Regions from separate parts of the Homo sapiens genome. Here region 1 is linked to region 2. The links come from fine-mapping of genetic effects on gene expression. Tissue or cell type: whole blood. Region 2 holds a variant in brackets; the other region holds the start of a gene. All regions are shown on one strand. Distances are between the middles of the regions.

Region 1 (2,500 bases), 46 kb before region 2:
GCAGAAGAGCCAACTACAGATGGGGGTGCCGCTGCTGGTGGCTGAACGACTGGTACTGGCCTGGGTGCAGCTCTCATCTGAGGGGGCCTGGCTGGCCGGAGGGGCCATGCGGGAGGTGCGGCTTCGGCTTCCACGCGGCATCCTAGGTACGCGACGGCTCGGCCTCCGGACGTGTGACGACCGGCTAAATTTTGTATTTTAGTGGAGATGGGGTTTCACCATGTTGGCCAGGCTGGTCTCAAACTTCTGACCTCAGGTGATCCACCCACCTTGGCCTCCCAAAGTGCTGGGTTAACAGGCGTGAGCCACCGCACCTGGCCCGATCTACCCTTCTCTTACAGGATTCCTAGAGACTTAATATTTTGGTTTTGGTTTGTTTCTTTTTTGAGACAGGGTCTCCACTCCGTCGCCCAGGCTGGAGTGCAGTGGTCACTGTAGCCTGGATCTCCCAGGCTCACGGGATCCTCCCACCTGACGGCCTCCCGGCCTCCTGAGTAGCTGGGACTACAGGTACGCACCACCACACCCGCTACTTTTTAATTATTTTTTTTTTTTGAGACGGAGACTCGTTCTGTTGCCCAGGCTGGAGTGCAGTGGCACGATCTTGGCTCACTGCAAGCTCCGCCTCCCGGGTTCACGCCATTCTGCCTCAGCCTCCTGCGCAGCTGGGACTACAGGCACCCGCCACCACGCCCGGCTAATTTCTTGTATTTTTAGTAGAGAAGGGTTTTCACTGTGTTAGCCAGGATGGTCTCAATCTCCTGACCTCGTGATCCACCCGCCTCGGCCACCTAAAGTGCTGGGATTACAGGCGTGAGCCACCGCGCCCAGCCCTACTTTTTAAATTTTTTGTAGAGCGGGGTCTCACTATGTTGGCCATGCTGGTCTCGAATTCCTGGCCTCAAGCGATCCTCCCGCCTTGGCCTCCCAAAAGCTGGGATTACAGGTGTGAAACCCCGCGCCGGTCTGAACCTCAATGTTTGAACCACCAAATTTTACCTGTATTGACACAGGCCCCGTCTTGTTGTTTTTCTAAATCTCATGTCATTGTTTGCATATTGGTTACCCGTGGTTGGCTTTGGAGCTGAAGGTGGACAGAGCTAACATCAGGTTGCACACAGGAACACAGTGAGGTCGCGAAAAAGTAGCGCGAGCTGCCTCCATGGCCCAGGGCGACCTCACCGGCGTTTCCTGTCTGGGACTGCGCCCACGCGGTCACGTGGTGGCCCGGAGGACGCGCGGCGGCAGCGGCGCACGCGCACGGAGAGGAGGCTACTTGCCAGGTGAGCGAGCTGAGTGGGGCGCCGGGGCGGTAGGAGGGTGCTGTTCGCTGAGCTGGAGTCCGGGCTCCGGTCCCCGCCACGGACCTTGAGAGGGTACCCGGGGTCAGACCTGGCAGGTGGGAACCGGGAGTGGGGAGGACCCAGGGCAGGGGCGGGATGCGCAGATTCGTGGAAACTCTGCAGGTTGTGGACAAACTGCCCAAATCCTTTTCCCTGAATGCCAGTTTAATGGCCTCGTCTGATAAGAAAAAAATAAGAAATAGATTTCAGAGACCCTATTTCTCTCTCTGCCTCTCCACCTGCTTTACTTTTTTTCTCTTCTGTTAATTTTGAGCCTTATAAAACTATAGCGCCAGTATCCTGGTTTGGATCCTGAAACAGAAAAAGACATTAGTGGAAAAAATAATAAAGGCTGTGGTTTAGTTAATAGCACGTACCCATGTTAATTTCTTAATTTCGACAAATTGTACACAAATGTTGACATTAGAGGAATTTGGGTAAAAGGTACACAGGAATTCTTAGTACTATCTTTGCAATTTACTGTACATCTAAAATTATTCTAAAATGAAAAGTTAAGAAACAAAATCCTAAAGCAAAGTGCAGCAGGCCATTGTTCACCAGGGAGGGCTCAAGTTAGTTCCTCTTTGTCATGGAGTTAGGCATGTTTGACCAACTTGTTTGCTAAGGCAGAGTTGTCAGGCTACTGAATGTAGATTCTTCTGTCCAAAGGTTTCCGGGCAGGAATCGGTTTTCTCTTTCGATTCTGTCAAATATCTTTGGAACACATGTTGTGCATAAGCAAACGAGACACACAAAGTCTCTGCATAAGGGAATATACAGTCAGTCTAGGTCAGGTAGGAAGTAAGCACTATTAAAAAGATTCAGTAAAACCTCCCAGAACTGGGAAGACTCAGATGTGGAAGAAATCACATCTGGTCCAAGGGAGTCAGGAAGGCTACTGGAGGGAGTGCTGTCCTGAACTGAGGGGGCTCTGAGAAGAAACAGCATTCCTGGGGTGAAGAATGGCACCAATAGAGGCTTGCAGGTGACCAAGCTGAGCTGAGGGAGGAGCCCTGGGAGCAAGTGCAGTTCCTCTTACGTGGAAGCGCAGAGTACATCCAGGGAGTACTGCCAGATGAAACTGGAGGTGAAAACTGTAGCTTTGTTGTAGAAAACAGGGTGACACTTCAGTTGGATACATTATTTTTATTTTTATT
Region 2 (2,761 bases):
GGGCAACATAGGGAGACCCTGTCTCTATTAAAAAAAAAAAAATAGCCAAGTGTGGTGGTAGATACCTGTGGTCTCAGCTACTAGGGAGGCTGAAGTGGGAGGATCGCTTGAGCCTGGGAGGCTGAGGCTGCAGTGAGTCATGATCCCACCACTGCAGTCCAGCCTGGGTGATGGAGCAAGACCCTGTCTCAAAAAAAAAAAACCACCAAAAACTGATGGCCGGGTGCAGTGGCACGCCTGTAATCTCAGGACTTTGGGAGGCTGAGGTGGGTGGATCACTTGAGGTCGGGAATTTGAGACCAGCCTGACCAACATGGAGAAACCCTGTCTCTACTAAAAATACAAAATTGGCTGGGTGTGGTGGCACAAGCCTGTAATCCCAGCTACTCGGGAGGCTGAGGCAGGAGAAATGTTTGAACCCGGGAGGCAGAGGTTGTGGTGAGCCAAGATTGCGCTGTTGCACTCCAGCCTGGGCGACAAAAGCGAGACTCCATCTCAAAAAAAAAAAAAAAAATTGATTAATCTCGCACAGCTTTTATAAATCTATACAAGTTTGAGTAGTTCTTTCTCAGTTTCTCAGTGACAAGACTTTAATTCATTTTATTAGTATATTTCAGTAATCTTAAGAGGTACAGGGTGATACAGATTATTTTATGTTTAGTAACACTTAATATCAACTTTCTTTTTGATATGGCAGTTTAGACAAGTTTCCGGAAGTAGTTTATAGGCATACTTCTTTCTTTCTTTGTATTTTTGCTTTTGGGTTTTTTTTTTTTTTTTTTTATCTTAAACTCCTGGGCTTAAGCAATCCTCCAGACTACCAGCTTGAGCCATCACACCAAGCTATTTCTTTTTTTAGACTGAAAATAGGGACACAGATTCATCTACTCATCAAAGTGTCAGTTTCTCTGACTTCTGTTTGCCACAGCTCCTCGTGGAAGGGGTCAGGGCCGCCCTCGTCACTGTGGTCTGTCAGGATTGGTGGGAAGGGGATCTCCCCTCATCTGCTCTCAGTTTCCCACTAAACCACTTTTGGAGAATATTCCAAAAACATTCTTGAAATTTTCCTTGTACAATCTGAGATTTTATAACTTCTGCAAATTACTTTCCTTCAATGGATGAAGAAGGACATCAATGATGTCAGCACGTGAAATATTAAATATTATGCTAATACCTGAGCAGGGCCTTTGACAATTGTGGTATTTTTTGTTGTTGTCGTGATGGTGGTAAAATATATCTAAAGTTGGCCGGGCGCGGTGGCTCACGCCTGTAATCCCAGCATTTTGGGAGGCCAAGAGGGGGCGAAT[C/A]ATGAGGTCAGGAGATCGAGACCATCCTGGCTAACACAGTGAAACCCCATCTCTACTAAAAATACAAAAAAATTAGCCGGACGTGGTGGCGGGCGCCTGTAGTCCCAGCTACTCGGGAGGCTGAGGCAGGAGAATGGCGCGAACCCGGGAGGCGGAGCTTGCAGTGAGCCGAGATTGCGCCACTGCACTCCAGCCTGGGTGACAGAACAAGACTCCATCTAAAAAAAAAAAAAAATTATATATATATATATATATATATATATATATATATATATATATATAGTTTACCATTTGAACTGTTTTTAAGTGGTATTAAGTATATTCACATTGTAATGTAACCTTCATCACCATCCAGCTCCAGAACATTTTCATCTTTCTTTACAGAGACCCTGTCCCATGAAACAGTAACTCCTCACTTCCCCTTCTCCAGCCCGTGTGATTTATTATTTAATGGCACAGTTCCCTGAGAAGAAGGTAATGCTATTCTCATTTTAGAGATGAGGAAATCAAGCTGAGAAAAGTCACCCGAGGTCATACAGTTAGTAAGTGGCTGAATGAGGATTCAAGTCCAGGTCTTTGCTGTTCGGAAGCAGAGTTTGCATGGCTCAGAGGCCCCCTGTGGCCTGCAGACATGTTTTGTTAGGTTGGCTTAGTGTAGTCAAACAATAAGACTAGTGGCTGACATTTAGAATTGGAAGATGTCATGACAGATCTGCATTTCTGGCTGCTCTTGAAGACTGTGATGATCCAGTGACATGGACTGTGTTCTTGTGTGGCCTGTGTGTCAGCTGGCACAGAGGGGTGGCTGTGCCGCATGGCAGGGCGGCACTCTTGCTGCCTCTCACCTGCATTGCTCCTGGCTCTGAAGGCTGTGCTCTGCTCACTACATTCCACTGTGTGCTCCTGGACTCACTTGTCCTAGAGATCAAGTTACCTCTTTTGCTGGAAGTATATCAGTGAGGATATTTTAATGTCTCAGCTGGATTCTCATGTTCAATTTTAGGATTTCCATCACCAAGGAGTAAGAAGACCTTCGGGCAGAGACTGTTGGGTATGCTCCCTTCAGAAAACAGTTCTAAGAGGATGGAAGACCAGGACAGTCCTCAAGAGGTCCTTAAGATGCTCATAGATTTGGTTAGTGTCTTTGCTTTTTTTTGCAGGTTATGGTTAAGCCAAGCTTGTCCAACCCACGGTCCGTGGGGAGCATGCAGCCCAGAACAGCTTTGAATGTGGCCCAACACAAATTCGTAAACTTTCTTAAAACATTATGAGATCTTTTTGATATATATATATATTTTTTTAGTTCATCAGCTATCATTAGTGTTAGTGTATTTTTTTGTTTTGTTTGTTTTTTGGTTTTTTTGTTTGTTTGGTTTTTGAGACAGAGTCTCTGTCACCCAGGCTGGAGTGCAGCGGCGCGATCTCGGCTCACTGCAACCTCCACCTCCCGGGTT

Evidence for each region. PIP is the estimated chance that this variant, and not a neighbour inherited with it, causes the effect.
Region 1: CCDC125 starts here. The variant in region 2 is fine-mapped to the expression of CCDC125 in whole blood (TOPMed, PIP above 0.99). The same link has a PIP of 0.9 or more in caudate, hypothalamus, nucleus accumbens and sun-exposed skin.

What each region holds. Positions count from the first base shown.
Region 1 is chr5:69,331,548-69,334,047 of GRCh38, reverse strand. CCDC125 (coiled-coil domain containing 125) reads left to right here and starts at 1,247. Exons shown (of 12, transcript NM_176816.5): 1 at 1,247-1,399. It also overlaps the pseudogene CHCHD2P2.
Region 2 is chr5:69,285,017-69,287,777 of GRCh38, reverse strand. It overlaps CCDC125 (coiled-coil domain containing 125), which reads left to right. Exons shown (of 12, transcript NM_176816.5): 11 at 2,311-2,441. Among named protein-coding and RNA genes, the nearest start is that of CCDC125, 46 kb to the left of the region's middle. The variant C/A (reference allele first, on the strand shown) is at 1,308.